Linked DNA regions of Homo sapiens: all the other regions are reported to be linked to region 3. The links are microRNA targets in miRTarBase. Many come from high-throughput screens and were not tested one by one. Region 3 holds a microRNA gene; each other region holds the end of a gene's coding sequence.
The links. The annotated mature microRNA hsa-miR-134-3p reads CCUGUGGGCCACCUAGUCACCAA and lies in region 3 at 1,464-1,486, opposite strand. An mRNA with a match to its seed (bases 2 to 7 or 8) in the 3' UTR can be bound and repressed. Matches are read on the target gene's strand: a 7mer-m8 pairs with bases 2 to 8, a 7mer-A1 pairs with bases 2 to 7 and ends in A, and an 8mer does both.

Region 1 (3,000 bases), not on the chromosome of region 3:
TAGGCCTGATGGGCTACCAGCTCCTGCCGGTGAGTGGCCCTGGCCTGGCCCGTGGCGCATCCTCACTCCCAGCCTGCGGGTAACCTGCCGCCCTCTCCTCTCCCCACAGCTACCCTTCGAGGAACTGGAGTCCCAGAGAGGCCTGCCCCAGCTCAAGAGCTACCTGAGGCAGAAGCTCCAGGCCCTGGGCCTGCGCTGGGGGCCTGAAGGGGGCTGAGGGGTTGATGTGGGGTTCAGGATGGCCCCCCCATGGGGGGTGGATGATTTGCACTTTGGTTCCCTGTGTTTTGATTTCTCATTAAAGTTCCTTTCCTTCCCCGTTGTGAATCTCAGTTTTGGGACGGGGAGCAGAGCTGAGTCCCCCGCCTCTTCCATTCATGCCCCGCCCCCCATACAAAGACAAAAGGCCACAGATAGGTGGGGGCCAAAGCACTTTACTGCAGGGGCAGTGGGGGAGGAGAAGACTTTAAATTATTCACTTAAATAAAAAGGAGGGAGGGGCATGGGAGGGGGAACCCCATCCCACCAGCCTGTCCCCTCGTCCATCGGTCCCTCGGCTGTCCCTCGGTGGCGGCTACACAGGCATGGGCATCTCATTGTACTCGTCCACACCCTCCCGCTCATCAAACACCGGCTCTGCCTCGTTAGCATCCAGCTGTGTGTGGGGAGGTGGCGGTCAAGAAGGGAAGTGGGGGGGCCTTTCCAGATCCACAGGGAGGCAAGAGGAACCGGGGGAGGCAGACGGGAGGGCTTACACATTTCATCTCTCGGTCGGTGAAGATACGGGTGAGCACCACCATGCGGAGCGGCACTGTGAGGATGAGGATGAAGGGGAAGGCCAGGGAGGCAGCTGTGGACATGACGGCCCAGAGCAGGGCCAGGCAGAGCAGCTGCAGGGCCGTGAACAGGTGCATACGGAGGGTCCGGACCTGGGGGGCGGAGACAGGTGAGCCCAGCTTCCTCCCTAGCCTGCTGCTGGGAAGAGCCTCTCTCTTCTTCGGAGGCGGGGATGGAAGAACATTCCTAGGTGCCAGAGCTGGGTTGGTACAGAGAGGAGGTGGGGGCTGGCTGAACTGGGCAGATGGGAGGGGGCAGCTGGAGAGTGACCCAAGTAGACCAGGATGGCCAGAGGCACACCCCTTCCGGTGGGGAGCTGGGGGGCTCACCTTCTTGACGTAAGTGACATCTGGGTGGTGTTTGGGCGGCATGAGCAGCAGATGCAGCCGCTCATAGAACTGGATCCCGTTAAGGGAGGTGACTCCCATGTACAGGAAAATTCCAAAGAGCACGGCCAGGGGGATCTGCCGGAGCAGATCCCCGATAACTATGGAGAGGCCTACGGGAGGCGCAGGAGAAAGAGTTGGCCCCGGGGTCCCCTGGCCCCAGTAGCCCTGGGGAATCCACTGGGAAGGGAAAGGCAAGAGGCAACGTACCCACAAGCAGGGCAACCAGCAGCCCCGTCACCCGCTGCTCCTTGACTTCCTGAATCTTGGGCTTGTCCCCAGGTGCCACAGCCTTGCTCATGACAGTGAGCGCGTTGGCGTGAGTGACAGAGCGGACAGTGGCAGCAGCCAACCAGGGCAGGCCAAAGAGGGCACAGATGCCGCCCATGGCCACGATGAGCAGCAGGTCCAGGTGGAAGCCGGAGCCCTTCTGCAGCATGCGCTCCTTCTTGGAGATGATGAGCCTGAGAGCGGGAGGGGTGCTGCTGAGGCCCAGGCTGGACTCAGCTCCGCAGACCACAGGGTCTTTCCAGAATGCCCAGCCAGTCCCTCCATCTGGCTTTGGAACCTGGCGGTCCCTGTCCATTCCGTCAGGATTCAAATTCCGTTACAGAGCAAAACCTGGGCCCCCAGCCCTTATCGTCCATGACAGCTCCCAGCTAGCACTGCCAGGGTGGCCTGCCCCTCCACGTGCTGTTCCTGTCCCAGCAAACATCGGGGTTTTTCTGCTGTCTACAGAATAAACTGTGGCCATCTGGGCATCCAAGGTTCCCTGAGGTCCCTGGGATTGCCCAGTGTGGCTGGAGGTTCCATGCTGAGTTCCCCAGCCTGGCCTGGGGCTCTGGCCTCTCACACCCCTTTGGCTAGGACCACTCACGTGGTGATCTGTGTCTCCATGAAGATGAGAATGAAGACCAGGATGGCGGGCAGCAGGCTGGCAACCATCATCCACACAGGGAAGGGGCTCTTCTCTCCCAGGGGGTTGATGACCCAGCCCCTCTTTTCTGGGGCAGTCACCGAGAATCCACTGGGAACGCTCAGCTTCTGCAGGGCAGACACAGTGTAGGGACAAGGGTTAAGGTGAATGTGGAGGGCATGCCATGGAAAGGGGATGGCATCTTAAGGACAGGCTTAAGCTTAAGGACAGGCTGGGTTTGGAGGCTGGAGGGGAACACCTAGACCCGGGGTGGCAGAGGCAGCAGCACTTGCCTGCTGTGGGCAGCACCTTACCTGGGTATAGGTGTCCTCAATACTGTAATCCACAAGCACCATGATGAGGATGGCGATGGGCACCCCAAAGTCCCCAATCACCCGCCGGATCTGAGTGGGCAGGCACAGCGCTCAGAGTCCTGCCACCACAGCCGCTGACTTCCTGCCACCCCCCTTCCTGCCCCTAACCCCCTCTTGGCCTTTAAGCCCACGCACCCGGCCAGGAAAGAACCGGCTGTTCTTGAATTTGCGCAGGAAGAAGGCGATGAAGAAGGTGCCGGCCATGAGCACCAGCGACAGCAGGGCCGTGTTGGGCTGGCCCCGGGGCTTCCCCTGCCCAGACTGCCCAGCCAAGCTCCTGTTGCCCGGCCCCAGCGTGGGTCTTGCCCCGGCCCATGTCATGTTCTCACCGCCGTCCACCTCTGAGCTGTTGGAGGCTGAGCAGCCATGCAGGGGGTGCTCCTGGAAGATCTGGGGAGAGGAGGCCACACGGCCTCCATCAGCTGGACTGCAGAAAAGATTCCTGGGGCTCAGTGAGTGTCGGGTGGAAGGGGTGGGGCAGGGGAAA
Region 2 (3,000 bases), not on the chromosome of region 3:
AAGGATTCATTCTTCACTTGACAAGTATTTATTGAGTGCCTAGTATGTGTCTGGTACTGTTTTAGGTGCTTGAAGCGATAGAAGCAAATAAAATATGTGCAGTCTTTGTTCTCCAGAACCTTATAGTGTAGACAGTAGGCATTAATTAAATAATGACCCCAATCATGACATAGTTGCAAGCTGCATACTTTGAAGAAGTAGTCGAGGGGGCTCTGGAGGGGGACTACAGGTGAGCATGGAAGGAATCTGGTTTGAGGATTAGAAAGACTTTCTAAGGGAAGGGATCTCTGAGTTGAGATTTAAACCATGAGCATGAGTTAAGCGAGGGCCCTTCAGGGAGAGTAGACAGCAAAAGGCTCTGAAATGGGAAGGGACATTGGCACTAAGAGTTCCCACTATCCCATATAACACCATTGTATAAATCAGGAAAAGGCCCCTCTCAGTCACTGTGGCTCAGGGTGGACTGAGATTCACCCTGTCCAGGTCTCACAGCTAGCTGGACAGGGTGGATCTCAGTCCCACTTGTCCCCGCAGCTAAGCACCCCCATTGGATGGATCTGTTGGCAGTCCTTCCCAAGGGATTGTGCCTTTGTGAATTTGTGCCTTGGGTAAGACTGAAGGACCAAGGGTGATGTGCCTGGAGGGCAGACACAAGGGGAAGAAGTGGGTGAGGTGAGCTGGGCTACCAAGCTGGGCCCAGTCAGGAATGCCTAAGCTGCACAGAGGGCTTTGGTCTTCATTCTAAGACCAATGTGAAGGCTTTGAAGCAGGAAAATAACCCAATCAAACTTCAAGAATGGAGGCAGGGTGATCAGGAGTGAGGCTTCCTCAGTGACCTGGAGGAGAGATCATGGTGGCCTGGACTAGGATGGGTGCCAAAAAGATGGAAGGAAATGAACAGACTGGGGAAATATTTAGGAGGATCAATTAATAAGACTTAGTGATTGACTGGCTGTGGAAATTAAGGAGAAAGAATCATCACAGGGGTTTCCCAGGTTTCTGGCTTGTGCAAGTGATATGGTTTACTGAGATAGAAAATACCAGTGAGGAAGACACAGACATAAATGCATGCATGCATGCACCTGTGCGCACACACTCCTTGCAGGAGTTGAAGAGAAGATTAACTGTAATTATTTCATTCTTCTCCCTCTCATAGCCTCTCCTTCTCCGTGTAAAAAAAAAAAAAAAAAGATTGTCCAGGAGCAGGCAGATAAAAGTTCAAACTGAAGCCTCTCTGAGGTGGTTTTCACTACATGGTCTAAAAAAATATGAAACAAAGTAAAAATCCCATCAGAAAATGACGGCAATGCTATTCTAGCTTGCTTTTAGCTCTGATCTTTGAATTTGATGGTCAATTATTGAGATACCCTAAAAATGGCACTTAAAGTGTCTCTAGTGCCAAAAAGAAGTTCACAAACCAATGTACCTCTTGGGGGATTGTTTATTGGTGATGATAAATACCTCTTGTTTATTGTCATTGCTTGAAAGAGAAAGACATTCCCCACCCAGGAGCAGGCCAATTCAGACTCAACCGGCCTAGGACCTATTTCCTGCCCCAAGCCTCCATTCGGTCATGTGTGACAATGGCTCTGGGATCCAAATAATCTGTACTGTGTTGGAATTAAACTTTATTTGAGCCACAACCATATAAATAATATGTACACAACATTACATACTATACAAGTGTGCCAGTCATCCTCTACCCATCCCCCATCCAGTCATTCCGACTCCCAAGTATGTCAAATTGAGAAGAACCCAAGATGCGATCAGTTCACAGAGAGCATGTGCAGCCAGGAGGAGCACCATGCCTCCCAGAGAATCAAACGGGTAGGGCAATAGGCCGGTCTGGACAAGTCATACAAAAGGATTCCTTTAACATCTTGAACTCAAGTCTTAATTCAATTGCTATGAATTTCTCAGCCTATTTGGTTAATATTGAAATGGAATAAAAAATACAGCCTCCTCAAAACACTTTTTTTACAAGAAAAAATGGCTAGAAGGCAATTTAGTCACTTGTGATTCTGAAGAAAAAGGAAGGCCTTTCTTTGCATTACTGAGGGTTTTCAGTTGAGAGGAAAATGTAATCCAGAGTTGTTATATTCTGAGATAAAATCACAAACAGGCATATGTAAATCTCGAATCCTATTCTGTGGTGCACTGAAATAGTGCAGGGGTAAAAAAGCAGTATGGCCATATTTTCCTAATGGTAACTTTTCCATATAGACCTACATTTCACTGACACTTTTTTCTGTAAATATTTTGAATATGGATGATCAGTTTCTGTCACTTGTCCAATACCTAGAAGTGCCTGACAATGTTCTAACATGAATTTCTGGATTGGTTTCAGAAACAGAGTGACTGGTAACTATGTGCAAATGGCTGGTCTATTTTGATGTGAGCTTAATTAATGCTGCATATGAAACTCCAAATGTCATAATCCAGGAGTTTTAAAATTTTAATTATTAGACTGATTTAGTTAACTTATTCTAAAATGAAATTTGAATTTAATTTAGTGTGAGTATTCTTTTACAATAAATTCCTTTTTAAGAGAGAAGGATTTCATAAAGTCTTTCCATTTAGCATGTGGATGAGAACTATATAAAAATGCCACAAATAAAATATGACTTTCACATTACAACTTGAGCTACAAACTTGCAGGGGAGGGTTGGGCTGCCCAGTTAGGACGTCTAGTCACAAAGTCCAAGCCGCCGTCTGATGAAGTTGGAGATTAGGAGCTGAGGCCGTTGCTGGTACTCCACCAGGACATCATGAGGCAAGTTGATCTGATCACAGTCGAGTCTGTCGAGAAGTGTCACACAGACCACAGCAGCTAGAAGAGCAATTAGCACAACTGATGGAATGAATGGGTTCATCTTTTCTATAGAAGCATTAGCCAAACACACCAGCATCCCTAGCACATGTACTTTTGTGTATTTTTGTTGTTGTTGTTGTAATGTAGATGCAACCTACTGAACCTTCTGGTCTTCAATATTTTTGTGG
Region 3 (3,128 bases):
GAGGTGGCACTGCTCGCAGCATTCCTGCATCTTCTGCACAGCCTGGGCAGCTTGGGAGTGGCCTCTGAGGGTGGATGGGACCCTGAGGATGAGTGGACCAGGTGGCTCAAACCCATGCTCTCCGGCCAACCCCAGGTTCACCAAGCCAGGATTAGTGTGCACAGAAATACCACTTCTTGTGCTCAGCTGGCCATGCAGGCAACATTTAATAATGCAAGGATGTCAGTGGCACAGGAGTCATTAAATATGAAGCAAACCACACACAAATGTGTGTGCAAAAGCAGGCTAAGCACTGCCTCCTTGGTAAACCTGGGATTCCCTTACAGGAATTCTCTGGAGGGTGTAAGGCTGCTGTGGGTTAGTAAACCAGGGGTCGCACAGAGTCCTGTTCCTGTTTTCTTCTGTATCCCGACGGCTGACTAATAAAAGATGCTTCTAGATGCCCAAGATTCAACTCCAAGGTTGAATTTGATAGGAATAAAAAAAGAAGTCAGCCATGTGTATTTCAATCTTAACTTTTAAAAAATTAGGGCATCCCAACAACCTCTCTCGATTTTCCTAAAGTTGGTAGTGCCCCAGGAAGTTGTTTTAGGGTCAGCTTGGACTCTAAAGTTAGTAGGTCAGTTACATGCATCCTCAGGAAAATGCTTGCCATGGGGTCAGCCATCCAGAAACCTACCTTGGAAGCAGCACTGGCTCAGGAAGCCCTCCGAGGCAGAATTTGACACTAAAAGAGAGGAGAGCCGTGTATGACTCGCTTTGATGAATCGAATTCATCACGGCCAGCCTCTCTCCAAGTACCACACATGAACACTGGTGAGAAATCCATTGCCTCTCTGGCAGAGGTGGCCGCCCTTCTCGGGAGTCCTGTTAGGAATGGGTGGGATAGTATTGGGTAGTGGGCCGAGCCGAGTGACATACACCCACATTAAGTGCATGCTCACCCGAGGCGCACTTACCTTAAGGGAGTGCTGAGGGCACTGCCTTCTCCCCAGCAGCAAGGATGCAGTTCGTCCTTCCAGACAAGACAGGGAGCTTTTGCGTAGCTCACTGGTCCCTGACAGGAGAATCATGGCCGCTTCCCAAAGCCGCATTATCTCCATGGAGCCTCCTAGGGAGAGACAGGATGCTGGGTATTAGAGGACGACGTGACAGACCTAACAAAGGCAGCACATGCTCTGGGAAGAAGGATTCAGTCACACACCCAGGAGAAAAGCTGGCCCACATCAGGTCCCTCAACAGAAGACAACATGGCGTCCCACATCGGAAGTCAACACTTCAAGGAGGCTGTCACAGTGGTGAAGGGGCTGCCAAGGCTGACTCATTGCATTTTAAGTAAACATACACCCCCAAGAGCACGTGTCATCGCAGTCCACCAAGCAGTCACAGCAAGTCCATGGCCGCTTCCCCAGAGTTGGTGGGAGCTCTGGAAAGTCTTCCTGGAGTGGGAGTGATGCTGAGGGTTGGTGACTAGGTGGCCCACAGGGTGAACACAGTGCATGCCCCTCTGGTCAACCAGTCACACACCCTGGACGGTGCTGACACCAACATCTCTTCTGGAAGTCGGCCTGGGGCCCAGGGAGCCTCTCTTCAAAGTCTTGTGAGGTGACGCTGGTGACAGAACCACAGCTGATTCCCCAGAGTTGGTGAGACCCATGGGAAGACCTCCTATAGGTGCATGGGAGGCTCGGATTATCGGGCCAGGTGACTTACAGCTAGGTCAGCGCATTGTCCATGGCCCGCCATCCATTCTTGGCTTTTCCACATGGTTGACACAAAGACTATCTTTCCTGAAGCTGCCATTGTGTCCAGGAAGTCCTTAGAGGTAGCATTTGGTACTGAAAAAAGTGTTGTCCGTGAATGATTCGTCATAAGTAAAGCGAATCCACCACGAACAACTTCTCTTCAAGTACCACAGAAAAGCAGAGACAAGACAGACAAGGAGTCCCCTTCCACTTCTCCAAGGGGAGTGGCTGCCAACCACCATCCTGTGGACAGAGTGGACACCGAGCATTAGTGAGGCAGCTTACGGGTGTCCTAGGAACACACTGGAGTTTGGGCAACCCTTCACTCACCTCCCTTGGAGTGGTGCTGGCACAGTCCCCCTTCCCTGGAGTTGAAATTGTGGTCCTGAATCCACACGCACAAGGTTTAGAAATAAGAAGAGGGAAGCCACTTGTCACACGCCAGGAGCACTCCGCAGTGTGTAGACCCCAGGGTTTCTGAACAGGGCCTTGGACTTCTCAACAGAGCACACTGAGTTATCCATCAAGCACATCAAGGTGCCAGCCAGGCTCCCGCAGGGCCCACTGAACTAGGGAGGTCCAGAGGGGGCCCCCTTTTGCCACTGCAGGTGCCCCTAGAGAAACTGCCCAGCTCAGGCACGCCAGGCTCCTGGTAGGTTCCCCATCACTGCCCTGGGTAGATTCTCTATCAATGCCCTTGTGGTCAGAGTGATCTTTCCAACACAGACCACGCATCCCCCCTGCTCACAACCCTTCCAAATCCCCCATCTCACTCAGAATAAAACCTGGAGTCCTGCCTCTCCCAGCTCAGACCCAGCGACTCCCAGCAGCTCGGTTCAATCCCACTGGCCTTCTTGCTTTTTCTTAAAGATGCCAGGGGGCTTTCCATGGGCCTTGCCCTCCTCCTGAAATGCTCCTACCCCAGACCTTCCTCTGGTCCACCCCACTCCATTCCCACCCACATCCTCAGAGAGAGCTTTCCAGACCCCTGTATTTAACACAAAGGTCCACCTGCTTTTACCTCTTTCTGTCACTGTAACCCGCTTTCCCTTTCCCCATAAAACCTAGCAGTGGACAAAATTACGCTTCCTAATTCATGTGTTCTCATCCGTCTCTTCCACCAGAATGTAAAGTCCACATGAGCAAGAACTTGATTTCATTCACTGCTCTCTGCTAAGGTCCAGAATCACCTAGAACACAGTGTGCACTCCATCACTATTTATGGAATGACCAAGTCATTCCTTGTTATTTGATCAACTCATGAACCATGTAGTTATGCTATAAACAAAAGAATCTGATTTTTTTAAAAAGAGAGAACTTTATCGAAACAAAATCATGGTGGCCAAAGTCACCAACCCTCTCAATAGCCATTATGGCCATGGG

Region 1: miRTarBase lists FASTK as a target of hsa-miR-134-3p. The part of its 3' UTR that is shown has no 7-base or 8-base seed match.
Region 2: the mRNA of UPP2 is a reported target of hsa-miR-134-3p. Seed matches in the 3' UTR shown: 7mer-A1 at 2,147-2,153.

The regions. Positions count from the first base shown.
Region 1 is chr7:151,073,942-151,076,941 of GRCh38, reverse strand. It overlaps FASTK (Fas activated serine/threonine kinase), which reads left to right. Exons shown (of 10, transcript NM_006712.5): 9 at 1-29; 10 at 110-318. The coding sequence ends at 217. It overlaps SLC4A2 (solute carrier family 4 member 2), which reads right to left. Exons shown (of 23, transcript NM_003040.4): 17 at 2,649-2,903; 18 at 2,454-2,543; 19 at 2,101-2,267; 20 at 1,434-1,687; 21 at 1,167-1,336; 22 at 756-929; 23 at 419-655. The coding sequence ends at 575. Among named protein-coding and RNA genes, the nearest start is that of FASTK, 5.4 kb to the left of the region's middle. RefSeq lists enhancers at 1-718, 719-1,696.
Region 2 is chr2:158,134,578-158,137,577 of GRCh38, reverse strand. It overlaps UPP2 (uridine phosphorylase 2), which reads right to left. Exons shown (of 7, transcript NM_173355.4): 7 at 1,424-2,830. The coding sequence ends at 2,688. Among named protein-coding and RNA genes, the nearest start is that of CCDC148-AS1, 31 kb to the left of the region's middle.
Region 3 is chr14:101,053,090-101,056,217 of GRCh38, reverse strand. MIR134 (microRNA 134) reads right to left here and starts at 1,531; the gene lies at 1,459-1,531. It overlaps MIR382 (microRNA 382), which reads right to left and starts at 1,912; the gene lies at 1,837-1,912. MIR668 (microRNA 668) reads right to left here and starts at 960; the gene lies at 895-960. It overlaps MIR485 (microRNA 485), which reads right to left and starts at 799; the gene lies at 727-799.